4 linked regions of the Homo sapiens genome follow. The protein of the gene in region 2 purifies or fractionates together with the protein of the main gene of each other region. This does not show direct contact. Each region holds a gene or a part of one and is shown on either strand. Other genes may lie near its edges. The genes, in order: NCKAP1, NHSL3, NCK2 and BRK1.

Region 1 (7,755 bases), on a different chromosome or scaffold from region 2:
TGTCAGGGTTTTGCCATGTTGGCCAGGCTGGTGTTGAACTCCTGACCTCAAGTGATCCATCCGCCTTGGCCTCCCAAAGTGCTGAAATAGGCGTGTGCCACTACGCCTGGCCATGAAATTGTTAAATTAGTTATGGTATCTATAAAGGTATTAAAAAGAATATTAAAGACATTTTTTCTACTACTGAGTGAAATAAGCAGATTACAGGCCAGTATGTATGGTATGATCACATTAATGTAGAGAAAACAACAAAAATAGTATGTTGTTGTGTAAGTTTAGAAGAAAATAAAACAAACAAGATATTAAAAATAGTAGTTGTCAATTTACTTTTAACTTTTTCCTCCAAGTTACCTTTGCCACGCCTCCTCCCCCGCCTTTGCTGTATGAGAAAAAATTTGGACAAAAACTTCAGGTGACTATGAGGAGCGATTTTTTTCTCAGCCTAGCAGTGGTAGAGAATGCCTTATTTTCATCCTTATGCCCTTTCACATATGATTCCAAAGTGTACATATCCAAATTCCTACTTTACCTCTCCAGAGATCACTGCCAACAAAGTTATTACCTCTCTAAGATCCTAATATTTCAAAACAAACGGCATTAAATCTTAGTTTTGACTGCTCACTGTGTAAATCAGACTATTTCAGGTCTGAACTATGCCATTTTAAAATTTCCCTTTTTAAAAAATCTTTATGGAACAAGTACAATTTTTCGACAGATAGTGACAACTACTCCCTACTTTAAATATAGGCTGGACAAATCATACACAAAATAATAGCATAATCTCATAGTACTTCAATTTCATTCTACTCTCTATGTTTGAAGAAAGAAAAACATTATAACTGAGTTCACAGCAGCCTTCTTTTATCTTAACACAAGTTACCAGTGTATACATAAGAAGCTGTGAACAGAAGCTCTTTATGATATTCATATACAAAGCTGCTGAGAAACAGCCTCAACAATGCCAATCAAAGAGCAAAACATTGGGTTAGTTTTCAAACTAAATGAGCTGCTTTGCCCTCCATGCCAACTATTAAGCAATAGGCCCTTTTATGTCTTTCCCATTCATTACTGACTAATGCAGCAGTTCTCAACATTCTCACTAGTCCCATGATCACTCAATTTTTTTTCCCTATTCTTTTAAATAACTCTATTTGGTTACAGATAAAATGAGCAAGTTGACAGCATACAAGTTTTCTTTAAGTTCTTAATTTTTAAGAAGTATTGTGTAATTTTATTTTCTAATTTTGGTATTTTTTTCAATAAAATGTTTTTTAAAACATTTAAACAAATCATATAATAGCTGACCTGGTATCGAATGCTGTACTTAGACATTCCTAAACCATTATTTTTTATATTTCAAACTAAGTTTAAACAAAAACTTTATTATTATTGAACGAATATCCAAGGATCTTAAAGAAATCAATCGAAGTGTGATACAGTCTAGTGTTTATTTTATGTTATGGCAGGTACACTTGAATTTCAAAAATTTAAAACATATATAAAAAGTGGTTAGGGACTAACATTTGTATCAACAGTTGATAAATGTCTAAGATTGTTTATTATACAGCAGGGTACAATGGTAGTGCTAATGCCAACAGGGCACCATGGAAGTTAGTCTAAAAATTATCGCTAGGCTTTATACAAGCAACAACATATGCTGCTGCTCTTAGAATTTTGGGAAATGATCTGCTTCTAATACTAAGCAGTTCTTTAACATTTTTAAATGTTATACAGTGTTACAGTATTTAGTTTGGCAAATGTTTCAAAATAAAGTAGAAATGTATTCATAACATCACAGAAATGCACATCCAATGTTGTTTTCAATAAGAACCATAGGTACAGATCAGAACTCTTCCCTATATGAAATAATTTACACACAGATGAATACTATAATATCACTATCTAAAATAATCACTAAATACAGTTCTTTTTCAGAAATAAACAAGCAAAGATTTTTTTCATTATCAAATATCAAAAACATGTTGATAATGTATGTTTTTCAAATAAATGATACTTTAAAATTATAGGAATAATCTCAGTGAATTCAGTGAATGTGCAACCTAAATCAACCAAGTATACTGTAGTACAACCATATTAAGAAACCAATGATCAGAAAATACAACCGTATGAAAGAAATTTATAATCCACAAAACTTTTTCAGGTCTTAAGGTAAAATAGTTCCACAGTCTACAGGTAAAACCAAGGCAACAAAAATGCGTGCTTATCTTGATTAAGTAGGTAATTTTATGCAGAAGATGTAACACTTTGTTTGTAGACAGCATGGTATGCATTTCTCAGCAAGACATAAGGAAAACAAGATTCCAAAAGATCCATTGTAAGGAATGGAGATTCTTGTACAATCTGTAAAATTCAAAAAATCCATCAAAACAAGTTATTTATAACTTGTTTATAAACAAAAATCATAAGTTATTTATAATGGGAACATTTATTGACAACCAGTAAGGCATAACTTCTATATTGTTCTTATTAGCAATAGACACATATTATTTTCCTTTTACTTAATCTAAAATGTAAATGTGCCACAGTGAATGTATATCAAACTGTTTAAAAAGAGCTACTTTTCAATTAAATTTATTTAATCAACAGGAATATATTGAGCACTTTCATTTTCCTCACTGATATACTAGAAATAAAAGACAATACAAAAATATTTTTTTTTTGTACTATCAACTCTACCTGGCAATCAAAGACTAAGCTAGGAAGCAAAACCAAACATAAGACCGACTATAATGAAATGGAAAGCTGTAAATTCTGTAAGAATTCAAAACAGAAGAAAGATTAATGTAGGCCAAAGTAATCAAGAAAGACTATCTGGAAAAAGATTTGAGCTGTGGGATGTGCTAAGTCATTAGGATAAATCCAATTTCTGCAGGTAAGGAAAATAACTCTAAGTGGGGAAAGAGCCACGTGGTAGAAACAAGCAAGAGCTGGTTCACAGATACTGCAGAGAGGGAAGTGACTAGGCACAGAGAATTACAGAAAATTACGAGAAATGGGCAGAATAGAGTTAGAATGTAGAAAACTCAGAAAACTGGAAGAGAGGTGACACCAATACACTAGAAAAATACAAGGCCTGAGTGTTTTCCAACAGGTTGAAAAACTGTTCATAAAAGAATACCCACAGTTAATGCTAACCTTTGATTGTTATCTTCTGATATTACCGAAATGATAAAATATGAGTGATGTCAGTCTTCTCTGCAAATTTTAGAAAGGTGTGGCTTACGTGAAGTGAACAAAAGGGATCAAAAAAAGTATTCAATGACTAAGATGCCAAGAAAAGATTCTCAGGAACGACTGGAACTTTTTTATTGTTAGTAAAAATTAAAATGAGACTTACCATATCTAGCAGTAAATAAACAGATTCTCTATTTCTTGTTGTAGTTTTATCTGTCTCCTGGCCAATTTTCAGTAGACTGGAGGATGCAAGCTTAAAAGTATACATACACATAAAGTGAGTTTGTTAATAAAAGGTTCATCGGTTACTTATTTTAGGTATGTTTCAACTTCCAACACATTTCAATCATTCAGTGCTAAATATAAAATAATGAGCAATTAAATAAGATGAGCTTAGATAGCCTACATTCAAGCAGTAATTTAGAGAGTAATTAAGGCACAAAGAGACACTAACATAATAAATGTAATCAAATATTCTTATTGGTCTTTAAAACTGATTTTTTCAGAACAAGTCTGCTTTTTAAAATGATTCAAATTATTTTCTCTTATCCCATCCCATTATCTATACTGACTATATTTCTTAGTTCCCAAGGAAGAAGACAGTTTCACACTGGATTTGACTTCACAGAAACACTGTAAGATTAAGACATTAAACCCTGAGTGAAGGAATTATTTGCAAATGGAAAGAAACACTTAAAATTTTTAATAGTGTTTTCCTTGAAATAGAAGTTATTTTCTCCTCAAGTTAGTACTATATTTGCATTTGTAATTTAAAAATTATTTTTTAAAAAAGCTGACAGGATTTATAACTGAAAAAGAAGTAAATGTTCTAGAGTTCAGTATGCCATGGTATATCTTTCGTTTAAATAAAATATGGAAAAGGTTATATTAATAAAGAAAAGAAAGAACTACATTGATAGAGAAACTAAAAACCATGTTTCATGAGGCTACATTTAGCACTCCTCTCTCTTGGTAGTGAGTAGTATTTTTAATGATGAATTTTTCACCATTAATTGTCTTTCTCCAAAGAAATGGAAAAAAGTAAAATATGTCTTTTTAGAGGGAATAGCTTCTCTCTTGGCCTCAATTTTCCTTTGCTTTTTTTCTCTTTCAAGCCTAGGAAAATTTCTAGGGCAGTCCAAACATCAGCTTGGGGAAAAAAGGTCATATTGCAGAGCTCTAGAGTTGGGAAAGAGACTTCCGAGTCTAAGGGAAATAACGGACGGCTCCTCGATTTTAATGCCCCACCTTCACCTGTTTCTCCCTCCAAAAAAGAAAATAAACAAATAAAAATAAAAGGAGACTGAAATTCATATACCTGAGAAAATAATTTGAAAACAAAATGCCATTAGAGGACACTAAATAAAATGTAAAAATAAAGAGAATTTATTCTTACATTTTGTGGTTGTGAATTTTAGTTTTCTTTATAAAATGTGATGAGTTTTGTTATTTGATTATACATACCGCCAGAAATTCTTTAAGACGGTCTTCAATGCTTCCTTTGTGAATTGTAAACAAAGCTGCAGCAATCTGGTTGATGGCTTTGGCCAAGCAATGTATGTTGTTGCAATGCCCTGAGAAAATGCAAATAGGGTTGTGTAGACCCCAAAATAGCAAATAATACATAGAAGGCAAATCTTTAATGACTTCACAATCTGCATAAATAGGGGCATAATTAAGAGTAGAGTTGGGACATGACCGGACTTGCTCTCCTTTGACTTTCATGAACACTGATGTTTTTAAAACTAGTTTAACAGGAGAGTAACAAACGATCGTGTATATGTTAAACAGGCAAACACTTCTGAAAACATCTAAAAGAAATCACACATCAGTTTTATAGTAGCTCGGAAATAAAAAGGAAGTGCTTAGCTGCTTTACAACATTTTACCATTCAATCCTTAAAATAATCCTATGAGTTGGATAATCCCTCACCGACCTCTACACACATTCAGGCACACATGAGCTTACTTACACACATTTCATATATCAGGAAACTGCAGTTTAGGAAAAGGGAAACAGACTACCCCATGTTCCACTGCCAGTTAGTGGCAGAACTTAACTCATATTTTATTATAAAATACCAAAACCCATGATTTATTCATCGCCAAAACAATTTTAAACCACTATTACCTTCTATAGCAGGGCTGTACTGAGACATCACATTACTGGCCAGTGTTGGCAAAGAAACTGCCACAAACACCATGAGAAGGCAGGCAATTTTATACTCTTCTTCTGGACTAATGTTTTCTAAGAGACAAAAATTAAGAATAAAATCAAGGTATTTCTTCAAGATTAGTTAAGATTTGATAATCTAAACTAAACAGATTTTTATTTTAAAAATGGTTTACTTTTTTTTTTGAAATAGTAAACTATTTTACTAGCATTCTATAGAATTGGTCACAATTTTGTTATAAAAATATAAAGTAGAAACAGTTTATATTACAATGGACTATTATCAACTACTTAGGCATATTTCAAGGACGTCTGATAAAACAGTAAGGTAAGATTTTATTTTTTTTAATTGTAAGATTATAGAACAAAAAATACAGTTAGGATAACTGCAATCCTACAATTTCCTAATTGAAAACTAATGAGGAATTATTACTTTATGAGACAGTTCTATTTACAATTTAGAAAACTTATAAATTATTCTGCAAAATCACCAAAAAAATCTTAATTACTTTTTGAAAGAGATATGAATATAATTTGAAATTTACTATTTAAAAGACATAAATGTGGAAAGTGGAATGGGTTTTCAACCTCTCTATTTTAGAAGACAGAAGAAACTAGTCATGAATAAAAGAAGACAGAAGAAGACAGAAGAAACTAGTCATGAATAAAAATACCCAGCATTGCTCTAAAGCTTTCAAGACATAACCCTTTCTAAAACATTTATTGTGATATGCACTCAAATTGTGGGTTATTTAGGCTACTAATCACCATTAGATATAATTAAGAATTGAATGTAAGAAAAGAGCTGAAATATGTTTTAAAGATTTGGTCGACTACAAAAAATACAGCTGTAGCAAATCAAGTAATAATTATAATTATCCATGTGACTAAATGTAACATACTGTATGAATGAGGAAACAAAATTGCATTGTTAAATGAAAAAAAAAAAAAAACTGATGAACTCAAACACCATGCTGCTGCCTCAAGGAGGCAGAAGGGGCATTTTAGTAGTAGAAAGAGATGAAATGCTATATTTACTTTGTAGACAAATCAAGAAATATCTACAGGATTCTGAGTACTGCATTTCTAAGGGCTGGTCTTAAAAATTTCTAAATGTTTTATATAAAACTCTTGATGGTGAATAACTCTAGTACAATAAAAACAGAATACCCTTTCCTAGATCTCAATTTTTTGCTATCTACTGGACCATCTCCCATTAGCATACAAATGCTGTAATCTCCTCCATCTTAAAAAAATCCTTCTCTTGACTTTGCTCTTGCCTCCAGCTGGTGAGATTTTATTTCTTTGCTTCCCTTTACAATAGAACTCTTTGAGTTGTCTTCTAGTTATCTCCAAATCCTTTCCTCCTGTTCTCCCTTAATCTCCCTTACTCACTACTCAGCCTTTTGCCCATAAAACCTCACTGACACTGATCTTGTTAGTACCACCAATTAACTCTACATAGCTGATCATTTCCTTTCTATCTTCCTGGAAGCTACCCTTTCCTGGTTTTTCTTCTACTTCATTGGTCCTTTCTTCTCAATTTCTCTAAATTTCTTTTTTCGTGGTTTTTCCTTTTCTCCCTGAGCTCTTAAATCTTAGAATGGCTCAAGGCTCAGACCTGGATCCTCTTCACTGCTGCATCTATATACACTAAATGGCTCAGTAATCTCAACCAATCTTAAGTTCCAGAAGGGTGATGTTTGTGTTTTATGCACTGATATAGTCCAAGTACCAGCAATAATAATAACAAATTTAAAAAGCTGAACACAAAGCAGGCATTTGAATATATGGTTAAATATCATACCTATACCTATGCTGCCCTGGTAACTTTAACTAAGAGTATTAAATATTTACTAATGCATTTTACCCGATTTTTGTGAAGAAAGAGCTACGACCAATGCAGGATCAATCTCACAAGGTAATCCGGCAGCTGATGATAACTCATACACATTCATTGCAACCTGATAAAAACAAAAGAATTACAGAGCAATAAATAGTCTAACAAATTTCTGAGAAAGCTCACTGTTTATTAGAGTCTGCCTAGAAGAACACCAGAGAATTTCGGAAACTTGGCTGAAGCAGAAACTACAGCAAAACTAAGTATACTGAACAACTGATTCAATGTAGGTTGAATACTGTGAGGTGCTGCTGGTTCTAACTTCCTACTGCTAGGCCAAACAAAACTTGTATACTTTCTGTGGCACATTCCAACAGGATAATTCTAAAGTTATCACTTTGCTTGGAAGCATGAATATAAAATATCAAGTCAGAAAAGATGAATAAATGAACAAAGTGAATCAATATTACTAGACCTGTGTTTATCTCCATAGTGGTTTAATGAAAAATTATAGTGGTTCAATGTCTAATCATATCGTATCTATAAAT
Region 2 (8,081 bases):
TTGCATTTCTATGGTTACTTCTCTTTAATATAATTTTCTTTTTTTTTTCTTTTTTTTTTTTCTGAGTCTCGCTCTGTTGCCCAGGCTGGAGTGCAGCGGTGCAATCTTGGCTAACTGCAACCTCCGCCTCCCGAGTTCAAGCAATTCTCTTGCCTCAGCCTTCCGGGTAGCTGGGACTACAGGTGCACGCCACCTTGTCTGGCAAATTTTTTGTATTTTAGTAGAGACGGGGTTTCACCGTGTTGCCCAGGCTGGTCTCGAACTCCTGAGCTCAGGCAATCTGCCCGCCTCGGTCTCCCAAAATACTAGGATTACAGGCATGAGCCACCACGCCCAGCCTTTAATATAATTTTCATATGCTCTCTTGTGAGAATCTTGGTGAGACAGAAAGGTCACAGCCCATCAAGGCAATGTCCAGCCAGAGGATTCCCCCTTTCTTCCCCACAAGACAGTGGTGGAATCAGGGAGCCCACTGAGAAGTTGCTCATCCTACATCATGGGGCTTGCTAGTAGCTGGGCCAGGATTTAAACTCTCATTGGCCTGATTCTGATACTCTCCCCACTCTATCAAGTTCCCTCACTTCTCTCTCTGGGCCATTTCCCATCTGTAAAGTGAGTTGAACAAGAAGATCTTCAAGCCTTACCTGCTGCTCTATGTCCTTGGGAGAGTCATGAAAACAGTCCCGATTTTTGAGGCAGGTGATTTGAGTTTAAATCCGTTTGGTCAAATCAGTCACTCACTGTCCCTGAGCCTCAATTTTTTCATCTGCAAGTAAGATCTTGACATATTCAGACTAATCAATAAATGTCAGACTTCCTCTCTTCTTCTAAGTTTGTGCAGGGTAGTGAGGTCAGCAAGGGAATCATGGAAGACTGGTGCTCAAAACTCCATGACAAGCTCAGTTTTTCCATCTTAAAGTAGGAGAGTCAGATTAGAGGAATCAAGACCTGCCTCTCATAGGTCTTTGAGCCAGAGATTGGAATGGAGGAGATAATGACTTCCCCAGCAAAGATCCCTGACCTCCCAGGAATCTCCTGTGTATCCCTCCTCCCCACCTCTCCCAATCTCCATTCTGAACATTCTCCCTGAAAGAGTTAAGCCTTCTGCAGGCTTCCCGTTCCTGGCCAGCGTTGCCAGTGGAGATTAGTGGGATCAGATTTATTTCTCTTAATAAACAGAAAAGAAGTTGGGCCAGGCAGGTGACAAGGAAACAGTTGCAATAATAGGAGGCTGGAGTAAAAGGGAACAGGACTTCCTCCAGTCATACCCAGGGCCACCTCCAGACCTGGAGAAACAACAGCCAGGGGCAAGGAGGTGTTACCCATGCACGTGGGCTCAAATCAGGCCGACATGCTGCCCAGAAAGCCCAGAGCCACCTGATACCAAACACAAGGCAAGAGGGAGGCCTGGCCACTGACCCAATGAACCCAAACCCAGGCTGTTGGAGCAGTGACCTACAGGCTCAGCTTTTCCAGCCCCCTGCCTTCCAGGCTGGTCTCCCAGAGGAAAAAGGTCCATTGCCCTGGAGTATACACTGCTAGTCCACTAGCCTTCTGCCTGCCAATCCTGACAGTCTGACCACAATACATCCTGCTGCAATGCCCTCTTGAATGAGACGGGGATGACTTCAGACTGAATCCCAGTGGGGCAGCCCTGGGACAGACTCCATGTCCTGTTAGGACTGCAGAGGCTTTGGAAACACCCCTCACCCAAATCCAGTCCTCCCTCAGGGTTTGGCCCAGTCACCCCAGCCCCAGCACCCTCACTTCTATGTGTGGCTGTGCCGCAGGGAAGCAGGGCCCTTATCCAAAAGGAAGATCAAGCCGGATACAATCACACATGAGGCTTTCCACCCTCTTCCTGACCCCTAAAGTGTTCCTTCTAACTCTCCCAGAAGAGGTGGTTAAAGGACACTGGGAGGGTAAACACAGGCAGAATGGGATGGGCCCGCACACCCAGCCATTTCCTCACCTCCAGCACTGCAGCAGCAGTCTAGGAAAGGTGGACTTCCCAGGACAGCAAGCCCCAAGGGAGCTCCACCCTCTTGCAAAGACTCAAGCCCTCCCCATCAAAAGGAAGACAGAAACTGGAAAATGAGGGAAGGCCCAAGAAAGGAACTGAAAATGACCCCAGCAGGGATGGGCCAGGTCGGCTTCCCCGCCTTTCAGGCTGCCCGTCCAGGCCAGAGGAGGAGCCCAGGGACTCAAATTCAGAAAGACTGAGAATTAGCTGTTGAATTTTAAGTACCCACCCCAGCCCAGGTACAGCCTCTCCACTGAGCTTGGGCCTCAGTTTCCCCCATCTGTAAGCACACTTCCGACACTGGCATGTTTCTCCAGGGCTGGAAGAAGGAGTGATAGGGAGGGGCGGGTTGGTTCACCTTGGTGAGCTCACTACCCCAGGAGGTGATGTTTGTGGCCTGGCCCAGGTGAGCGTTGAGGGAGGCCAGGTGGGAAAAGCCAGCACTGTTAAGAAGCTAAGGCAGGGCACACTGTGCTCCATGTGAGGTCCTTTGTGGGGCTGGAAATCCAGATCCAGCTGGAGCTGAAACTCTTTGTGAGTGCGGTTGACCTTCCAGACCCAGAGGGTCCCCACCAGAGACCCAAGGCCACCTGTCTCTCCCATTGGCCACAGGCCAGCGTTAAGTCTCTGACCCCCTGACTCAGCAGAGGGCAGAACCTCGGTGAGCCTGGGGGAGGGGGAATCGCCTCACCGCCCTGGAGTCGGGCTACCAGCACTTCCTGCTCTGCCAGGGGATCCCTGCCCCAGCCGGGGGTCCCCTCCCCTCACAGCGGGGCAGGACTGGGTCTGGAAACTGCGGAAGGCAGCGCAGGGTGGAAGTGTTCGGACTCAGCCCTGGCCTCTTCGCTTTCCAGCACCAGCTCCTGGGGGTCACCCCCCTCCAACACGCCGCGCGCGGACCCCCGGCAGAGCCCCCTCGGCCGCACCCTCGACGCCCCCCCGCGCTCAGCCCAGGTGCCGACCGCCTTACCTCGGCCTTTGCCCTTGGCCCTCTTGGCCTTGTCCTCCGCCTTCTTGGCCCGGGGGGCGGCCGGTTCGGCGCCCTCGGCCCCCGCCGCCTTCTTCTTGCGCCGCTTGCCCCGCAGCCAGCTGAAGGCGCGGCGGAGGCCGGACGCGCCGGAGCGGGACTTCTTCCTGCGCGGGGGGCCGCCCGGGTTCCCCGGCTCCTCGGCCGCAGGTGCGGCGGGGGGCGCGCGGGCCGCCATGGCAGGCGGGGGCGGAGCGGGCGGCGGGTCAGGCCCCCTGCGGCGCGGTGCCCATGCCGGGGGCGGCCGCCGGGGACGCGCGCCCGGAGAAAAGTTTGGGCGGCGGAGGCCGAGCGGGCGCGGAGAGCGGACGGCGGGAGCGGCGCGGGAGGGGCCGGCCGAGCGGCGGGCGGGGCGCAGGCCGGCGGGGAGGGAAGGAGCGGGGCGGGAGCGGCCGCAGGGCGGGAGCGCCGCTGCCTGCGGCCCCTCCCCGCCTCCCCCGGTCCCGGCGGAGGGCGAGGTCCAGTCCCGAGAGGAGGGGGTCCCGGGAGCCCGGGGTCGTGCCCCCCGCTGGGGCCCGAGAGGGCGGGTCGTGGGGCCGCCCGGGAGGGGGCGGCACTGAGGTTCCGTCCCGCAGGGGGCACCGCGGGAGATCTGTTCGGAAGAGGGTGGTATGGGGTGGGGACGGAAAGGGGAAGGGCGCAGGAAAGGAGGAGCGAGAGGCTGGGGTTGGACCCCAGGAGACTTGGTATCCCAAGTTTGGGCTGGGAATAGACAGGGGATTCTGGAATATTTTTTCCTGGAATAAGGGAATTTGGAGAATTCCTTCCAAGCCCCGACAGTGTTGGGGCGCTTGCGCCAGGAATAGAGGCTTCAGACACGTCCAAGACCTGTGACCCGCAGTGGGCATTTCCCTCCCATCTGCTGACTGGGGTCGCCTCCTCGCTCTTTACCACACCTTCCAGGCTCCAACCATCTTCGGTGTGCAGCGGGGGCCCAGGTCCACTGTGTTCCTGCCTCACCCTTTGGTGGCAAGATGAGGATAGCCCTTCCTCCGTTTACCCTTGGACTAGGATTTGAGGCCCCAGGGCACTCCTGCCTGGACCAGGAGTTCCCACTGAGATGCTCAACACTAATTAGGGTTGAACTCTGGGCAGGTGAGAGGTGTGACTGGGAGGCTGGTAGGAAAGGAAACATTAAGAATCCTGAAATTGCTGTACTCATTGCCTACAGGCCTCTGGGTCTATTACAGCTGACCAAGCCCTTTTATATCATCTGATCCCACGACAACGGAAATGGAGGCCAGAAGGGGACAGAGGTGGTCAGCGGGAGAGGAGCCAAGATGGTCATCTGGGTTTTGTCTCAGGCTGGTCCAAGGCTTCAAACCCTAAGGACTAGAAATTGCGCTGGGGACCAGCTGTGGGTTCAGCACCCTTGAACCTCCTCCGTCAGTCCCCAGAAGGGCCTTGTGATGTCCATACCAGTGGGGTGGCCAGAATCACCCAATCTGACTCTGGTCACACGGCTTTCTCTTGGTCCTGGTCTCCACGAGGGCAGGGGCCCATTTGTCTGGGCCACCCAGCCCAGTCAGCCCCGGCGCACTGTAGATAGCACTCACCATAACATTGCAGGATTACTAGAGTGCAGTGGGATCTCCCTAACCTGCCTTAGCCCCCTGCATGTCCCCAGGGGCTCAGCTGTGGTGAACCTGGGACATCATTGACACTCTCCCACCTGGGGGCCCTGGGGCAGACCACCCAGTGTCCATGCTGGGCCTCAGTTTCTTGTCTAACCACCATTCATTCAGATCCAGCCCACAATCCCAGAGCACCCATTCTGGATCAGGAACCAGCCCTGTACTCTGGGTGCTCTTGGCCCAGCCTAGCACTCCTAAGAACCCAGCCTCTTCCTCTGTTAGTTGGTGAGGAAAGGGAATGTAGAGAATGCAGTTTTCAAGAGAAAAGTGTTACAGGTGCCAGGCATGGTGGCTCAGGCCTGTATTCCCAGCACTTTGGGAGGCCCAGGCAAATGGATCACCTGAGGTCAGGAGTTTAAGACCAGCCAGACCAACATGGTGAAACCCGGTCTCTACTAAATACAAAAACTTAGCTGGGTGTGGTGGTGCATGCCTGTAGTCCCAGCTACTTGGGAGACTAAGGCAGGCGAATTGCTTGAACCCGGTAGGCGGAGGTTGCAGTGAGCCAAAATTGCACCATTGCACTCCAGCCTGGGTGACAGAGCGAGACTCTGTCTCAAAAAAAAAAAAAAAAAAAAAAAAAAAAAACTTATTAAGAATTTCAAGGCCTGCCACAGTGGCTCATGTCTGTAATCCCAACACTTTGGAAGGCCAAGGTGGGAGGATTGCTTGAGCCTAGGAGTTCGAGACCAGCCTTGGGCAACATGGTAAGAGCTCATCTCTCCAAAAAAAAAATTGTTTTTCATTAGCCAGGTGTGGTGACAAGTGCCTGTGGTCCTAGCTACTCACTCGGGAGGCTGAGGTGGGAGGATCCCTTGAGCCCAGGAGGTCAAGGCTATAGTGAGCCATGTTCGCGCCACTGAACTGCAGCCTGCGAAACAGAGTGAAATCTTGTCTTTTTGTTGTTGTTGTTGTTTGTTTGTTTGTTTGTTTGAGACTGAGTCTTGCTCTGTCGCCCAGGCTGGAGTGCAGTGGCACAATCTCGGTTCACTGTAACCTCCACCTCCCGGGTTCAAGCGATTCTCCTGCCTCAGCCTCCTGAGTAGCTGGGACTACAGGCGCCCGCCACCACGCCTGGCTAATTTTTGTATTTTTAGTAGAGACGGGGTTTCGCCATATTGGTCAGGCTGGTCTCGAACTCCTGACCTCAGGTGACCCACGCGCCTCGGCCTCCCAAAGTGCTGGGATTACAGGCGTGAGCCACTGTGCCTGGCCTGACTTTGTCTTTTAAAAAAAGAATTTCAAGAGGCAATAGCAGGCCGGGCAAGGTGACTCACGCCTGTAGTCCTGGCACTTTGGGAAGCCGAGGCAGGTGGATCACAAGGTCAGGAGTTTGAGACCAGCCTGGCCAACATAGTGAAACCCCGTCTCTACTAAAAATACAAAAATTAGCCAGGCAAGGTGGCAAGCGCCTGTAATCCCAGATACTCGAGAGGCTGAGGCAGGAGAATCACTTGAACCCAGGAGGCGGAGTTTGCAGTGAGCCAAGATCACGCCATTGCACTCCAGCCCCGGTGACAGTGTGAGACTCCATCTCAAAAAAAAAAAAAAAAAAAATTAGCCAGGCTTGCTGGCAGGCGCCTATAATCCCAGCTACTCAGGAAGCTGCGGCAGGAGAATCACTTGAACCCGGGAGGTGGAGGTTGCAGTGAGCCGAGATCATGCCATTGCACTCCAGCCTGGGCGACGAGTAAAACTCCGTCTCAATAAAATAAATAAAAATACAAAAAAACTAGCAAGGCATGGTGGTGCTTGTCTGTGGTCCCAGCTGCTCGGGAGGCTGAGGCAGGAGAAACGCTTGAACCCAGAAGGCAGAGGTTATAGTGAGCCGAGATGGTGCCACTGCACTCCAGGCTGGAAAATAAGAACAAAACTCCGTCTCAAAAATAAAAATGCCGGGCACGGTGGCTCACGTCTGTAATTCCAGTACTTTGGGAGGCCAAAGAGGGCGGATCATGAGGTCAGGAGATCGAGACCACCCTGGCCAACATGGTAAAACCCCGTCTCAACTAAAAATACAAAAATTAGGCCAGGTGCAGTGGCTCACACCTGTAATCCCCGCACTTTGGGAGGCTGAGGCAGGCGGATCACCTGAGGTCGGGAGCTCGAGACCAGCCTGACCAACATGGAGAAACCCTGTCTCTACTAAAAATACAAAAATTAGCCAGACATAGTGGCGCATGCCTGTAGTCCCAGCTACTCTGGAGGCTGAGCAGGAGAATCGCTTGAACCTGGGAGGTAGAGGTTGCAGTGAGCCTAGATCGTGCCATTGCCCTCCAGCCTGGGCAACAAGAGCGAAACTCCATCCCAAAAAAAAAAAAAAATACAAAAATTAGCCGGGCATAGTGGCGGGTGCCTGTAATCCCATCTACCTGGGAGGCTGAGGCAGAGAATTGCTTGAACCCGGGAGGTGGAGGTTGCAGTGAGCCGAGACTGTGCCACTGCACTCCAGCCTGGGCGACAGAGCAAGATTCTGTCTCAAAAAAAAAGAGGCAACAGCAAAACATTCAACCAAGCACAGAGCCTTTCTGAGCATGGGCTATGCATAACTACACAGTTTGCATGCCTCTGAAGATAGCCCTGCCAGTGTCTCATATAATTCCTCAGGGAAATTCCCCTCAAACTAGAATTTCCAGGAATCAACCCACAGATTGGATCCTCTGATTTGCAGGTAGGGAGAGGAAGAAGGGAAATGAGGAGAGTTCAGGGTTATATTCCCTTCACTGCTCCTGACTCCAGCACCCAGAGACTCTCACTTCTCATCCCCAGCCCGGACCACCTTCAGACCAGCAGGCCCAGCTCTCCCTCTTGCCCCCTGGCCTAAAGGACAGACATGCTTCTGAGCCACCCAGGGAGGGCTAGCCTAGGAAGAGCTAGCCTGTGTCTCAGCTGTAGCTGGATCCGGCTCCCTGGAATAATGATTGCTCAGCTCAGCTACATGTCTTTGCTGGCCTTGCAGGCAGCGGAGGGAGCTGACTTCCCAGCAGTCCCTGTGGATAGGGCCCAAAGTTCAACCTGGAGCCAGGCTGTCACCTGACCAGGAAGGAAACTTCCAGCCTGTCCCCAGGGAGGAACCAGCAAAAACCAGGCTTGGGGCAGCATCCTAAGGGCCCTCCAACTTTGCCCCTCTGTTTGGGGAAAGCCCAGGACCACCCTGATGTTGCCCTCACACACACCAATCCCCCTTTCCACTTGGGAGACCTGCCTTCCACAGGAGCCAGCTTTGTCCTCTGCTGGGCCTGGCCTCCTTCCACAAAGACTCCTCACTCCAGACAGGGCAGCCAGGCCAAAGGTGTGGCTGAGCCTCTTACATTTTACAGGGAAGACCAGGAAGGGACAGACAGCCTTGGGATGGGAGCACCTGTGGCTTCCCTCAGTTCTTAGACCAATTGCAGGG
Region 3 (8,356 bases), on a different chromosome or scaffold from region 2:
CCCCTCTAGTTTGGAGTTGATAAGATGTGGGGAAGAAAAGAAGTAAGAGACGACCCTTGGGATGAGTAAGAACTCAGGACACGGAGGAGACTGAGCCAAGGAGTTGAGAGGGAACACAGAGGCTGGTCAGGGACAGTGACACCGTATGACATCACTGTGACACTGCTACCTCAATCAAAATAACTTTCATTTCCACAGTTTCAAGGACTAAGATTCTTGAGGTAGGAATGTATGTGCCAGTACACATGTGGATGTGTGTCACTGGGCAGAGGTAATACTTGCTAACGTTCATTTACCTTTAGAAATAAACATACTTTGGGAAATGTTCAAAGGAAAATGCAGGAAAAGAAAAGAGTCTAATTTTTTAATTGTGCTACTAAATGGCCTAAAGAAATGCAAAACTGTTTTTGCTTTAGCTGCACACTTTTGATAGCCCGTTAAAAGGCCGTCACGACCTTCTTCTGAGTTGCCTTAACTCAGGCATGGAACAAGATACACGAAATCACATTTTAGCTTAGGCCCTTTGAAAACGTGCCGTGAAGTATTTCCATCACTCATTTTAGGAAACAGAAACCATTTGGAAGTGCCACTCGCAAACCCTCTGGATGGGAAAACTAATTTCCTAAGCATCTGAAGTGAGCTGTAGGGAGTTTCCAGTTCATTTGTGAAAAAAGTTAGCTTACTTGTTTTTCCAAACATCACTCATCATCCTCCCCTGTAGTTCCAGCAAGCAATTCTGAGCTCTTCAGTCTTTAAGCCTCATTTTTAATGTCAGAGAATGATTTCCGCAAGCCCTGTCTCCCCCAGTGCACACGGCAAGCCAGTTTGAGCAGTTAGAAAAATGGGTGTCCCATAGAGCCTCGCAGCCTGGTCTATCCAGGGCAAACTAAGCTAGTGCAACTGATCAAGTAAAGGACTCCAGTGCATTCTGCGCCATTCCGGGAGTCTTAGGGTATTTTAAAAGGTTATCCAGTCTGTGCACATGCAAGGAAGATTTCCGGTGTATTTAATATGGATGGTAGTGCATTTCTCAAATATAGTACTGTGTACATAAGATCTGCTGTTTGTTGGAAAAGCTAAATAACCGAAAATGTAAATGACAAAGCCTGGGAATATGGCAGGGTCAAACAGAGCAAGGATGAAGAAGATTTAAGTATGCAGCGTGTCCTAAGCAAAACACAAAGCATGAAAACTGAGCACAGCCACCTGCAAGGCACCTTCAGCAAGCCCGACGGTTAACAGGGTCAGTTTCTCCACAAGTGGACAGAGGGGGTTATGCAGCAGCCAACTCTTCCTGATGGCAATTTGTGACCCAATTTCATCCAGTGTTTCATGACCAACCCCCCTGAATGTTTATGAAGCAGGAAAGAAGCTCAGAATCCAGGCGAGGCCTCCGGGACAGGAAGTGGGCCAGGCACCTCCACAGCTTCCTATGCCTAAAGTTCTCCATTTCAGCCTCAAGTAGCCGCCAGAAGACCACTAAGATTCCGCCACCTTCTCCAATCAAAACTACATCTAACCAACCTCCAGGGCAGAATATACTGAGGTAGGATTTTCCCTCGTGTTCACTTCTTCACAAGCAGGTTAACACTTGCTTCTCAGGAAACCCCTGTTCCAAACGTCAAAAAACCTCCATGTCTAGCCCAATCTCCAGGTGAAGTCAATTTCTTCTCCACGTGTCCGATGACTGCCATTCTCTTTACGTAAAACTCGCAAGGCTTGAATCCTGTTACTAATTCACCTGCTTATCTATGAAGCTTGCAAAGTGAATTGAGGGAGTGTTCACACGCACAGTTCCGTTTTGGTAAGTTAAAGCGGCCCAGGTTAATTTCATTTTCAGTCACTTTTGAGACTTGATAACTACATCTAAAACAGAGGCATGAAAAACACCCTGAATCACTTTCATTCCTACACAAAATCCCTTCCGAGAAGCGGGGACTGCGCCTGGGCCAGGAAGGGACTCCCCTACCTGTAGGTCCCAGCAAGCCACGCCCACCGGCCTCTCAGGGTTGTTTCTTTCTGGGTCGAGGGACGGAGCTGGCCCTTGCGATATTTTAGGCCCCCTCCTGCCCACACTGGGGCCTGCTCATCCCATTATGCAGATGCAAACTTGGCAGAAGCAGCCTTAAACCTGTTGGCAAAATAAACAAAGCCAAATAAAGAGGAATCTGCCAACCTGAATTGTGTGAAGTGGCCAAGGCCGACTCCACGCACGCTCGGCTTTGTCCCTGAAGCTGTTACAATACTAGTTTAAGTCAGGTGCCTGGGGTCCACCAGCCAATGACCCCTAGCATCCACCGCAGACCTTCACAGAGATCCCCATTGTCTACAAATTAAAGCGTTTTGCAAATTAAACCCCTCCACACAATGCCAAGCTAACTGTGCTCATAAGGCAGTTACCCTCCATGCCTTAAAACTCACATATCAAATTTTTCCAAAAGCACTCGGTGATTAAATCGCCCTGAAAAAAACCGAGAGAGCCGAGCGATTGTGAGAAACTTTGGTTCATTCAGGTGGCTGTTAGAGTCCTGTAAATCTGGGGCAGGGCGCAGAGCCTGAAGCCGGGCACAAAAGCTCCCTTCGCCGAAGCGAGGACCTCCTTTATGCAATGTGACAGCAGCTTTGTGCGCGAACATAAATAGTTGTAATAAACACGGTTAAGTTCTCCCGGCCGATCGCGGCCTCCCCCGTCCCTGCGCCGGGGCCCTGCGATCCGCGGCTATTCTTCCCCGGCACACGCGCCCTGGCGACCCTGGCCACCGCACGGTCCCACGCTAGCCCCGAGCTCCGTGCCGGCCGCCCGCCTGCAGGCCAGGCGCAGCCTGCGCACCCGGGGGTCTCCAGTCCCCGGGCCCCGCAGCCGGGCCCCCTGCCCTGATCCTCGCCCGCGCCCTTGGCTGGCGTCCCCGCCCCTGGGCCGGCCCCCGATGGTGGGGGTTAGGGATGGGAAGGCGGGCAGGAAGGTGCAGAGCCGGGAGGTGCCCGGCAGTCCGCGGTCGGGGGCGCCCAGGCCGCGGCAGGGCCGAGAGCACCGGAGGGGCGCGGAGGGGACCCGCTCTCCTGGCCCCTTCCCGGGCGCACCCCGGCCCGCGAGCCCCGCCGCGCTCCCAACTCCGCCCAACGGCCCCAAGTTTGTGGCCCCCGCCCCACGCCCGCCTAGCCGCGCTTACCTCGCCGTGGGCCGCCCGCGGAGCCGGAGGGCAGCGGCGCGGGTCCCGGGGCGGTGGCCGCGCTGCGCCCGCCCAGGCGCCGCTCTTTGTCTGCGCCGCTCCCTCCTCCCGCCGCCGGGCGGACGCTGCCGGCCCGGGCGGACCCTGCCGGCCCGGGCGCCGCGAGCCTCCCGGCCGCCAAGCCCTCCCCTCCGCCCGCCGCCCGCTCGGCCGCGCGGCTCCGGCCTGACGATCCCCGCGGCAGCGGCGGCGGCGGCGGCGGCGGCGGCGGCGACCCTCCCCCGGCGCGCAGCGCCCGCCTCCTCCGCGCTCTTCCTCCTCCTCCCGCGCTCCTCCCCGGCCGCGCCGTGACGCCGCCCAGGGGCCGGCCCAGGCCCGGGCGCGCGGGGCGGGGACCCGAGACCCACCTGGGGCGCCCCCCGTCGTCGCCAGGCTCCGCGCCCGGGTCCCGGTACGGGCGCCGGGATAGCGCGGGGCTGCGGGACGCTCCGCTCTGGAGGCGCAGCACGGGCCGGGCGCCGGGGGCAGGAAAGGGTCCCCACGCCCGAAATTGCGTGCGGGCGGTGGGGGGCAGGGTAGGTGGGTGGGGAGGAGAGTGAAAACACAGACGGCAACTTCCAGCCTGGGATGACTGCCGGGTGGGCTTTGCGTCCTCTTTTTTGTTTGTTCGTTGTTCTTATCACGAAGCTCTAGTTGCTGGGCAGCCGCCCCCCTCCCGGAAGCATTCCCACGGCACTCAGCTAAGCAGGCCTGTTGTCCATCAGAAAAGTGACTTAAATAAAAATGTCACTTCCTCCCTGTAATTGCTTGTGGGCATTTTTATTTATTTGCTTTGCATCTATTTACTTTCCCAACCAGACACATTTTTAGTCCATCATCCCTGTCCGAGGCACTTCCTAAAAGAAGAAGAAACTCGACCTCTGTTGCCTCCCAGGCATCCAGGCCAGCCCCAGCCTGTGGAATCCTGGTTGCACACCCGTGGGGGCAGAACCCGAAGAGGAGCTGCCCGAATGTGCCCCTAGAAGGAGTGTCGCTAATGATGGGACCGTTCAGCTCACCCAGCCTCGAGTTGTGGCTAGCCTATAAACAAACTTGGAAGATGAAAACCCAAGAGCAAGGGGAAAGACACAAGTTTCCCTTTCACAGACACATGCATCCGGATGTCTTTTCTCCTCCCCATATGGTTTCCCAAAGGAAATCCTAATATTCAAATGATTCTGATTTCCTGGCAGGATAGCCTGCATCCATGTTAATGAGATTCTTTCTTAGGCTCCTGGTCTCTGCTTACTATTAAGGCAATAATAATTTACCCAAGGTTACAAGGCTGTATTATTTGATTCACTCATCTCCTGCTTCCTTCCAGAAGGGAAGTACCCAAGGATAGGTAACTAGAGTCAGCGTAGCTTTGAAGTCAGACAGGTGAGTGTTTGACTGTTGACTTCCTGAACTGTGTAACGTTGCACAGGTGGTCCTCAGCCTTTCTAAAATCTGTCATATGGGGAGATAATATTTACTTACCTCCTATGTGAAGTACCCTGGCAGTAGGTAGCCCTCAATAGCTCAGTAAGTGGAAGGAAGCACAGTACACTGAGCAGGAATCAGGTACAAGCTCAGGGAATCAGAACAGCCTCATTTTTCCTTGTTTTGACCTTGTGAAAGAAGCTACTTCAGTTCATCCTTTTGTGCAAGTTTTGTGTTACTAATATCTAGCTTTACAATAAGAAAAGAAGAATTCTAGTCATCAGTCTGCCCAATTTTAGATTAATTTACTCAAAATAAGTATAGCAATATTGACCCAGTTTGTAGCTTGTTTGCTTTGTAAACTTTCACTGAATCGTGGTTCTTGCATGCCTCTTCTTTCTCTGATTCTTTAGAAGTCACCGATGTCATTCTCTATCTAAATCCAGTGGCCCTTTATCAATCTTTATCCTGTGGAGTTTTCTGAAATATGTGGCATTTCTGCTATTTCCTGAAACACCATCATCTTTTCATTCATCAAACACAGCCAGTTCTGATTCTCTTACCTTTCTGACCTGCCCATCTGCCTCCTCTAGAGAGGTTGTTGTCTTCCCACCCTGTAAAAGTGATATCCCCAAGGCAGATGGTGGCCCTTTGTTTTTATTCTGATACGCACCTTTTTTTTTTAAAGAGAGAGTTGATTGTTTTTTGTACACTCCCTGTCTAAACCTTCATTGATTAACCCCCAGACCTGTAGCCTTAGAGAGCTCCCCTGCTAATCTGCAGAGCTCCCCAGCTAATCTGCACCCCCTAAACATGGCGCAGCATCTCTTCTAGGTCACCATGTTCAAAATGAAACTCATCTGCTCCCCAGACCAGCTCCTCCTCCCATGGTTTCAGGCCTGGCCAAGAGTCTACCAGGCACCTCAGCTCCTGGGAGAAATCTCATTGTTATCTTGGCTTTTCCTTCCCTCTCTCCGAGTTCTCCCCAAGAAAAGCTGGGAGAGCGCTGAATGACACCAAGACCCCTTGCAGACTACCCCCATGGTTCTGAGTCCTGGTGATTCTTAAACATCTTTTCCACTGCACCTTTCTTTCCATTTCCATCACTGGCATCCTAACTTATACATCATTCTAGCAATAGTTATAATGTACCTTGATTGAATTCTTGACATATATCATCTCTAATCCACACACAATAGTATTATACCCATTTTACAGATGAAATCACTTGAACAGTGGATCAAAGAACTGGGGTCAGAGCATGTACCTGACTCCAAAACTCTTGTTCAATTCCCCACAACTACTGCCTTCCAACTGGTCTCCCATTACTTCCTTCTTAAATCCCTCAGACTCACACTGGACATCAATGTCATCCTAACCTTCCTGTAAATTGTTTCCATTTGTCCCTGGTTGTGCTCAAGAACTTCTCATGGCTCCCCATTGCCCACCACAGTCTCCTCAAAAGTTATCTGATGACTGAAGACTGAGCATTTTCCCCCAGAGAGGCTGGGGTATTTAGCCCTTAGAGGCCTGTGTTCGTTTCCTGGGGCTGCCTTAACAAATGACCCCAAACTAGGTGACAAAACAGAGGTTATTTTCTCAAAGTTCTGGAGTTCAGAAGTCTGATATCAAGACACCAGCCTCTCTCCAAAGTCTGTAGAGAACAATCCTTCCCTGCCTCTTCCAGCTTCTGGTGGCTGCAGACATTCCTTGGCTTGTGGCAGTGTCACTCCCACCTCTGCCTCTCTGTCTTCACACAACCTGGTTCCCTGTGTCCTTTCCCTTCTCTCTTTTTGTAAAGACAAGTATCATTGAATTTAGGGCTCACTCTAATCCAGCATGATGTCATCTCGACATCCTTATCTTACAACATCTGCAAAGACCTTTTTTCCAAATAAGGTCGCGTTCTCGGCTTCCAGGTGAACATATCTTTTGGGGCCAACATCCAACCCACTGCAAGGCTTAACATGGGGGAGACATTTCTTTGAAGCTTATGTTTTATCTAAAAATATATAGGTTTTTCTGCATTCTACTCCATTAATGTGTCCACATCTGTTTTACTGTCTTCAATCACAAAGTATTGAAAGCATAAAAAACATGGAGTGGAAGGAGGTGCAGTAAACTTTTGCCTAAAATCACATCAGCATTACATCTTATGATCTCTCTTCCAAAGGCCTCTCCAACTTAGCCCTGCCATACAATCTCCTTTTTACCTCTGTCCAGTATAAGCTGTTTGCTTCAGTCACTCAGCTCTGCCCACAGTGCCACATTGAGTCACACTAGTTTCAGCCTTCTGTGGTGTGAAGGCAGCTAGGAATTCCCTGTCCCCGTCCTTCTCTTTCAGAGCTCCATTCAAGGCCTTCTCTAACCCCTCCTTAGACTCACGGAAAACACAAAGCAAGGTTGAGGGTGTTGTCCAAGTCATACGTCAGAGGCTCAAAGCCTACCTTGGAGCCTGTGCCTTGGGGTCATTTCACCTCTCTGAGCCTCAGATATTAATAGTGCTCTTGCAAAGCGTTGTGAGAATTAAAGGAGATAATATAAACATGTCTCAACTGTGTGTTCAGCACATGGTAAACACTCATGTCTCCTTTCTCATGACCTTCTCTTGTAACCCTCAATTCAATTAAGCATATCTGGTGTAGTTCTATTTGTAAGGCATTATAAGATCCACTTCAGGATTCATTCATTTGGTGCAGACACCAAAGAACACCTGGATGTGCAAAGAGCAGATATAAGATTGCATTATTCAGAGAGGTTATAACGCAAACTGGAGTGGAGTGAAAGGATGGGAAAATAGTTTAGGAGAAATGGAGAGGAAAGACCCAAAAGGAAGGATGAAACCAGCATACAAATAACTATAATATAAAACTAAATATGAACAGTACCAAAGAAAATATGTCTAGAGAATCAGGAGAAGCTTTAGGCTTTATGAAAGGTGGTGGCATTGGCAATGACCTTGAGAGATTACATGGTGGGAAGCTGCCTTTAATTTGGCTGCCCCCCTCTCTAGCCCCTTCCTGGTTTTAGAGAAGCCTGTCTGAACCCTGGAGGGAGGCAGAGTAGGCACCTTGGTCCCTCCATTCCCAGAAGCCCTGTGAGAGTGAACAGCCTGGGATTGGCCAATGGAACCCTCCCACTCAAGACTGTGAAACTGGAGAGGGTGAAAAGGACAAGAGAGGGTGAGATTCAATTTGCCATGGCTGAAATAGTCCCAGCACATCCCTCCCACAGGAATTAGCCAGCTCCATTCTCACCCCTTCTGCTCTCCAGTTCCCCTGTGAGCTACTTGATATTCTTCTAGTAAATTCTCCTATTCTGCTTAAGGTACCCAGAGGCACTTCCTCTTTTTGGAACCCAAACCCCTGAATAATGCAAATGGTAGGATTTTGAAAGGTGGAGATAGACAGGGAGAAAATTCCCAGCGGCAGGAGTTCAGAACTCTGAGGCAGACAGGGGGACGTGGGAGGACCCTGTAGGGACAGAGAATGGCCCACTTGCCTAAATGGAGCAGAGGCTGCACAGAGCGGATCGCGAGGCCAAGAAGGAAAGCAGTTAAGTGTGGACATCATCTGGGCTCAGCCCAGGAACACTCATTTGGTGCATGCACGGAAGGACAGCTGGAGACAGGAAGAGCAGACAAAAGTTCGCATTTCCAAGAGAGTTCATAACCCCAACTGGGGTGGAATGAGTAGATGGGAAAGTGTTTTAGGAGAAATGGAAGG
Region 4 (7,755 bases), on a different chromosome or scaffold from region 2:
TGGGATTACAGGCGTGAGCCACCATGTCCGGCCAGTGCTTAAGTTTCCTAAGACTGTTTCTGCTTTCAGGTTTTTTTCAGCAATAAGTGGAAATGTGCATTCTCTCTGGAATGCCCTTGCCCATCAAACTCACCCGAGCTTCAATGTACTCTATTCTCCGTTCAAGGGCTGTCAATTTCTCGTTTAGTGTTGCAAGTCTTGAACGACAAGACATATCTGAGAAAAAGAGACTGGTGTTCAGGATTAATGTCACTCCAAACACAGACACAGACACACACAACACCTACAATGAAAAAGAGGAATAATACACAGAATACAAATGGAAATGGATACAGTGCTAAGATCCACTCATAGCACAGTTGCTTAGAGTGGATCTGCTGAACTTCCTATCAAGTGTTGCAAGTAGAGAATAACGGCCCCACAAAAACGTCCTTTCCTGCAGGGCACGGTGGCTCATGCCTGTAATCCTAGCACTTTGGGAGGACTAGGCGGGTGGATCACCTGAGGTCAAGAGTTCGGGACCAGCCTGGCCAACATCATGAAACCCTGTCTCTTACTAAAAATACAAAAATTAGCCAGGCATGATGGCACATGCCTGTAATCCCAGCTACTTAAGAGGCTGAGGCAGGAAAATCACTTGAACCGGGGGGGGCAAAGGTTGCAGTGAGCCAAGATCTCGCCACTTCACTCCAGCCTGGGTCAAACAGCAAAACTCTGTCTCAAAAAAAAGTCCTTTCTCTAATCCCTGGATCCTGTGAATATGGATTATACATGAGGAAACAGGGCTTTGCAGGTATGATTAAGGTTAAGAACCTTGAGATCCTAGAGTTTGTCTTGGATTGTCCATTTGGGCCCAATCTAATCATAGTCCACAAATGTAGGTGAGAAAGGCATAGGAAGGGGGTCAGAGATGAAATGGAAGAAGAAAAAGAGATTCCAAGTGTGAAGGGGATGCAATCTGCCATTGTTGGCTTTGAAAGTGGAAGAAGGGAGCCATGAACCAAGGGATGTAAGTGACCTTTAGAAGCTGGGAACAACTCTCAGCTCACAGCCAGCAACAAAACAGAGATCTCAGTCCTACAACCACGAGAAACTGAATTCTGCCAACAACCCAATATTCGAGGAACTAGACCCTCTCCTAGAGCCTCCAGAAAGGAAGGCAGTCCTGCTGAAACCCTGATTGGAGCCCAGGCCAGGAGCAGTGACTCATGCCTGTAATCCTAATACTTCAGAAGGCCAAGGTGTGAAGACTGCTGGCCAAGGTGTGAAGATTGCTAGCCCAGTGACCAGTGTTTGATTTATGACCTACACATGGTAAATAATAAATGTATGTGGTTTAAGCCACAAAATGTGTGGTAATTTGTTTTTTTGGTTTTTTTTTTTGAGATGGAGTCTCACTCTGTTTCCAGGCTGGAGTGCAGTGACGCAATCTTGGCTCACTGCCACCTCTGCCTCCCGGGTTCAAGCGATTCTCCTGCCTCAGCCTCCTAGGTAGCTGGGACTACAGGTGTGCGCCACCATGCCCAGCTAATTTTTTTTTTTTGTATTTTTAGTAGAGACGGGGTTTCACCATGTTGGCCAGGATTGTCTCAATCTCTTGTCCTCGTGATCCGCCCGCCTTGGCCTCCCAAAGTGCTGAGATTACAAGTGTGAGCCACTGTGCCCAGCCTGTGTGGTAATATGTTATGCCAGGAATAGCAAATGAATACACCAAGGCTGTACAGCCATTTACTAATGGCCTAACTAAGACTTTCAAGAGAGGGGACATGGCAAGAATAAGAAAATAATCTCAACAGGAAAGAAACGAGGCTGGGCGTGATGGCTCACGCCTGTAATCCCAGCACTTTGGGAAGCCAAGGTGGGCAGATCAACTGAGGTCAGAAGTTTGAGACCAGCCTGGCTAACATGGTGAAACCCCATCTCTACTAAAAATACAAAATTAGCTGGGTGTGGTGGCGGGTGCCTCTAGTCCCAGCTACTCGGGAGGCTGAGGCAGGAGAATCACTTGAACCTGGGAGGCGGAGGTTGCAGTGAGCTGGGATTGCACCACTGCACTGCAGCCTGGGTGACAGAGTGAGACTCCATCTCAAAAAAAAAAAAAAAAAAAAAGGCCAGGCACGGTGGCTCAGGCCTGTAATCCCAGCACTTTGTGAGGCCAAGGCAGTGGATCACGAGGTCAGGAGATGGAGACCATCCTGGCTAACACAATGAAACCCCGTCTCTATTAAAAATACAAAAAATTAGCCGGGTGTGGTGGCGGGCGCCTGTAATTCCAGCTATTCGGGAGGCTGAGGCAGAGAACTGCTTGAACCCGGGAGATGGAGGTAGCAGTGAGCCGAGATTGCACCACTGCACTCCAGCCTGGGAAACAGAGTGAGACTCCGTCTCAAAAAAAAAAAAAAAGGAAAGAAAGTAGAGGCCAAGAAAGCAGCAGAAATTATGGGGAGGGAAGGTGTGAGAGTTCTGAGCTCATTAAAGCCATGTCACTACTGTTGCTCCTAGAGGCAAAGGCCTTTCAGAACTAGAGAAAAGTTGGAGAGCATCAAATACCCGATAAAGCCCACATTCCATCTGTGAAAACAGCCAAAATTATTCTTCTTCCTCTAGCTTTTCCAATCTTCTTTTACCATCTCATTCAAAATGAAACCAGATTTAATTTAAAACAACTTTTTCTCTGCAAACTTCTGTAACAGGAACTATTCTTTTTCCAACTATTCTCAACATATGAGAGAAAAGGTATCTTAGCATGGTCATTATCTTCTACTCTCTCCTCCAACATTGTTGTTCAGTCATCTCTCAATAAACTTCAGTTTTCAAGTCTGAAATATTCGCTGAGACTCTCCCACGCAATGATTTAACACTTAGCTAACAAGTTTCCTTTTCATCTATTCCCTGGCTGTTTTGCAAAAGCGCTTCAGCATCCATTTTGACAAATCTTCCTACACCCTGATCTTGCCTCAACTTTCATCTTATTATGTCCAAATCTTACTCATCTTGCCTGCCTATCTCCTTCAAGGCTAAGTTCAAATTCTATCTCTGAGAGGTCTTGCCAGATGGACATAATAATTCTTCCTCTTCTGTATTTATCTAAACATTTACGGATGAATTTTTTTTTTTAAAAGAGACATGGTCTTGCTCTGTCACCCAGGCTAGAGTTCAGTGTTGCAATCATAGCTTACTGCACCCTCCAACTCCTAGGTTCAAGTGATCCTTCCACCTCAGCCTCCCGAGTAGCTGCAATTACTACTCAGTAGGTGGATGCCACTGTGCCTGGCTAATTTTTTTGTTTTTTGTTTTGGTAGATATGGGGGTCTCACTTTGTTGCCCAGGCTGATCTCAAACTCCTGAACTCAAGCAATCCACCTGCCTTGGCCTCTCAAAGTCCTAGGATTACAGGCGTGAGGCACCGTGCCAGCCTCTGAATTTCTAATTTGTAAGTTATTCATGTACTTGGTCTTTGGTTATGACTTCCCTCTTTGGATAAAGATTTTACAAATAAGAATGTGCATCACTACTATTTAAGATGGTGAAAAAGCAACAAAACCAAATGCCCATGATTGGAATGGTTTGATATAGCGTATTAATGAGACTATTAAAATAGCCATTGAAAGTTACAAGTGGCCAGGCGCGGTGGCTCATGCCTGTAATTCCAGCACTTTGGGAGGCCGAGGCGGGCGGATCACCTGAGGTCGGAGTTCAAGACAAACCTGACCAACATGGAGAAACCCCATACCTACTAAAAATACAAAAAAAAAAGAAATCCTGTCTCTACTAAAAATACAAAATTAGCTAAGCATGGTGGCGCACACCTGTAATCCCAGCTACTCTGGAGGCTGAGGCAGGAGAATGGTTTAAACCCAGGAGGCGGAGGTTGCAGAGAGTCAAGACTGCACCACTGCACTCCAGCCTGGGCAACAGAGCGAGACTCCATCTCAAAAAAAAAAAAAAAAAAAAAAAAAGTGGCCGGGTGCAGAGGCTCACGCCTGTAATCCCAGCACTTTGGGAAGCCGAGGTGGGTGGATCACCTGAGGCAGTGAGCCGAGATTGCACCATTGCACTCCAGCCTGGACAACAAGAGTGAAACTCTGTCTTAAAAAAAAAAAAAGTTTGAGGAATATTTAATGAAATAGGAAAATATTCATGTTACGAAACCAAATGATATTTATGTACTTGTAATTTACAATTTATTTACATGTCTGTTTCACCGTTAGAACAAGTTAATCAAAAGAAGTACATATTGCCTCTTGTAACCTTAGCATCTTGCCTGGTACATAGATGTTGACTGAAAAAAAAAAGATGGATTCTGGTATATTAGTGGAACAAAAGATTGACTCTAGTGTAACTCTATTCACCTTACAAGTGGGAAAACTGAGGTCTAGGTAAGCTGAGGGCCCATGTTGGGTCACTGGTATTCTTTCCCATACTGTGTGCATCCCAATGCACACTACTATCATCTTTCTGTGCCTCCGGGGCTATAATTTATACCCCAGGTCTCCAGCCCAACTCTGCCACTTTCCATTCTTTCACCTGCTTAAAGTATACAATTCAGTGGTTTTTAGTATACTTACAGAGTTGTGCAATAATTATAATCTACTTTTAGAATATTTTCATCATCCCCAAAAGATACCTTATACCTCTTAGTCCTGTCACTCCCCATTCTGTCACCCCTCAGTCCCTGGGAACCACTAATCTTTGTCTCTATGGATTTGCCATTTCTGGACATTCTTCATTCTTTTTACGCTTGTGCTGCTTGAATTCCCAGGTCTAGCTTAAGTATGATCACTTCAGCATCCCCCTTTTCCTGGATGTACTGCCACTTTCTGTCGGAACTGCCCAACAGGACCAAGCCTCTTTTCAGTCTGGTTTTTGGAAGTCTGAAAGCACGTTATGTATGCTACTGAGTAAGAGCATGAATATTATCTCTGACAACCTGCCATTTCCCATGAAGACATACGAAAATTATTGGGGGAGGTAGGAGAGAGGGAAGTTTCCTTCCTGGGTGGCTATTCTGTTCTAGCTGTCAATCTGGTAATGAATTAGAATTCAAGAACAATACTATGCTCCTGGCCTACATGGATAAACACTGTTGAGAAATAGAAAATGTTCAACTGCAGAAACCTTGGTCATATTTCAAATCCTAATAAGTATACGCTGGTTCAAATAAAAAACACTGAGAAAGCATTCAGCAGCTGGATAAATCTGAAACCAGAGCACAAGTATGTGTACATTATCACCAGCCTTTAACTGAAAATACCAGTTCTCGTTAGGAAACAAATGCTGTTATCAGACAGCTCCTTCTCTGAACTTAATGCATATAACTTCAGCATTACAAAAATCAATACTGTCAGGCCGGGCACGGTGGTTCACACCTGTAATCCCAGCACTTTGGGAGGCTGAGGTGGGCAGATCACTTGAGGTCAGGAGTTTGAGACCAGCCTGGCTAACATGGCAAAACCCCATCTCTACTACTAATACAAAAAGTAGCTGGGCATGGTTGTGTGTGCCTGTAATCCCAGCTATTTGGGAGGCTGAGGCAGGAGAATCAGTTGAACCCAAGAGGCAGAGGTTGCAGTGAGTCAAGATTGCACCACTGTACTCAAGCCTGGGCAACACAGCAAGACTCCATCTTAAAAAAAAAAAAAGAATTAGCCAGGCGTGGTGGCGCATGCCTGTAGTCCCAGCTACTCAGGAGGCTGAGGCAGAAGAATCGCTTGAACCCGGGAGGCGGAGGTTGCAGTGAGCCGAGATTGCACCACTGCACTCCAGCCTGGGCGACAGAATGAGACTCTGTCTCAAAAAAAAAACAAAAACTGTCTTTCTTTTGGAATGTTTTTGTAGTTAAGTCTTACTTTTCCAGCAAAATTCTGAATGTCTTAGGAGTGGGTATCATACCCATTTATTCATATTTATTCCTTTCTCACAGCATCTGACACACACCAGGCATGCTACATTTGTTGGCTCAGTACAAAAACCAAGATTTTAAAAAAACAGCCACATTCTCTATTTTGTCTTTATACTTCTCTGCATATATTACCTTTAGAACCAGAAAAAAATAGCATAAGAATAAAAAGCGATAATCTCTAACCATCTATTTTTAGAAACTTCACCAATTCCAAAGTGCAAAATAGGCCTAGTGTTATGATATTTTTGCTACATTACGATTTGTATGTCCTCAAGTTCACGTGGGAGACTGTGACTCTACTCTCACCAGCAGGAATCACAAGGTAAATGCTTTTCAGAAAGTCATTCACTATCTTAGAACAACAGTTCTCTCTCCAAAATACATGGCCCATGCAGATTCTCTGTGGTCAGGGTAAGGACTACAGAATTGCTAACATATTTGAAGAACTTCAGATGCTCCCTCAAAGTAAATTCTTTTTCTTTGAGAGAGAGTCTCACTCTGTCACCCAGGCTGGAGTACAGTGGCACGATCTTGGCTCACTGCAACCTTTGCCTCCAGGGTTCAAGTGATTCTCATGCCTCAGCCTCCCAGGTAGCTTGGAATTACAGGCATGAGACACCATGCCTGGCTAATTTTTGTATTTTTTATAGAGATGGGGTTTCGCCATATTGGCCAGGCTGGTCTCAAACTCCTGAGCTCAAGTGATTCACCTGCCTCGGCCTCCCAAAGTGCTGGGATTATAGGCATGAGCCACTGTGCCTGGCCTCAAAGTAAATTCTTTTTTTTTTTTTTTTTTGAGATGGAGTCTTGCTCTTTCGCCCAGGCAGGAGTGCAGTGGCGCGAGTGCAGAGCTTGCAGTGAGCCGAGATCGCACCACTGCACTCCAGGCAACAGAACAAGACTCCGTCTCAAAAAAACAAACAAAACAAACAAACAAAAAAAACCATTAGGAAAAGGAAATATATTTACTATTCATTAAATGGCAGTGGATCATCATAAAGGTCTTCATCCTCATTGTCTTCCTGCTGAGTAGGCTGAGGAAGAAGGGGAAGAAGAGAGGTTGGTTTTGCTACCTCATGGGTGGCAGAGGTGGAAGGGGAGGCAGGAGAGGTAGGCATACTGTATAACTTTTATCGCAATAAATCCACTTATGGCCAGGCACAGTGGCTCATGCCTGTAATCCCAGCACTTTGGGAGGTTGAACAGAGGTGGATCACTTGAGGCCAGGAGTTCAAGAGCAGCATGGCCAACATGGCGAATCCTGTCTCTACTAAAAATACAAATATTAGCCGGGCATGGTGGCACACACCTGTAGTCCCAGCTACTCAGGAAGCTAAGCCAAGAAAATCACTTGAACCTGGGAGATGGAGGTTGCAGTGAGCCGAGATCATGCCACTGCACTTCAGCCTAGGTGACAGAATGAAAATCTGTCTCAAAAAAAAAAATCTACCTGTAAATGGATCCATGCACTTCAAACATGTATTGTTCAAGGGACAATTGTACAAGCCTACTAATGGCTTAGGATGGGAAAAAAACATCCCATACATAGTCATCCTGACTCATTCAATACCAAGACAACATACTCAAGTCTATCCTTATAATTTAATTTATCCAGTTTCGCAGCCGGTGGGGTCTTTTTCTAAACTCTTGCATTGTGATAGTGTCAATCTTTTTTTTTTTTTTTTTTGGAGACAGAGTCTCGTCTTTTGCCCAAGCTGCAGTGCAGTGGCACGATCCCTGCTCACTGCAACCTCTGCCTCCCCGGTTCAAGCAATTCTCCTGCCTCAGCCTCCTGAGTAGCTGGGATTACAGGTGTGCAACACCATGCCCAGCTAATTTTGTATTTTTAGTAG

Evidence for each region.
Region 1: the proteins of NHSL3 (region 2) and NCKAP1 purify together in Homo sapiens (affinity purification with mass spectrometry; 2 studies listed by BioGRID and IntAct, with this or other methods). This does not show direct contact.
Region 3: the proteins of NHSL3 (region 2) and NCK2 purify together in Homo sapiens (affinity purification with mass spectrometry; 4 studies listed by BioGRID and IntAct, with this or other methods). This does not show direct contact.
Region 4: the proteins of NHSL3 (region 2) and BRK1 purify together in Homo sapiens (co-immunoprecipitation; 2 studies listed by BioGRID and IntAct, with this or other methods). This does not show direct contact.

The regions. Positions count from the first base shown.
Region 1 is NC_000002.12:182,923,458-182,931,212, forward strand, and holds part of NCKAP1 (nck-associated protein 1), read right to left. Parts: intron 7,332-7,755; coding exon 7,238-7,331; intron 5,443-7,237; coding exon 5,326-5,442; intron 4,770-5,325; coding exon 4,660-4,769; intron 3,449-4,659; coding exon 3,359-3,448; intron 2,362-3,358; coding exon 2,245-2,361; 3' UTR 1-2,244. UniProt on the Homo sapiens protein: Part of the WAVE complex that regulates lamellipodia formation. The WAVE complex regulates actin filament reorganization via its interaction with the Arp2/3 complex. Actin remodeling activity is regulated by RAC1.
Region 2 is NC_000001.11:32,737,102-32,745,182, reverse strand, and holds the start of NHSL3 (NHS-like protein 3), read right to left. Parts: upstream 3,354-8,081; 5' UTR 3,229-3,353; coding exon 2,994-3,228; intron 1-2,993. UniProt on the Homo sapiens protein: Able to directly activate the TNF-NFkappaB signaling pathway.
Region 3 is NC_000002.12:105,739,953-105,748,308, reverse strand, and holds the start of NCK2 (cytoplasmic protein NCK2), read right to left. Parts: upstream 3,398-8,356; 5' UTR 3,171-3,397; intron 2,704-3,170; exon of another isoform or gene 1,970-2,703; intron 1-1,969. UniProt on the Homo sapiens protein: Adapter protein which associates with tyrosine-phosphorylated growth factor receptors or their cellular substrates. Maintains low levels of EIF2S1 phosphorylation by promoting its dephosphorylation by PP1.
Region 4 is NC_000003.12:10,118,087-10,125,841, reverse strand, and holds part of BRK1 (protein BRICK1), read right to left. Parts: intron 217-7,755; coding exon 134-216; intron 1-133. UniProt on the Homo sapiens protein: Involved in regulation of actin and microtubule organization. Part of a WAVE complex that activates the Arp2/3 complex. As component of the WAVE1 complex, required for BDNF-NTRK2 endocytic trafficking and signaling from early endosomes.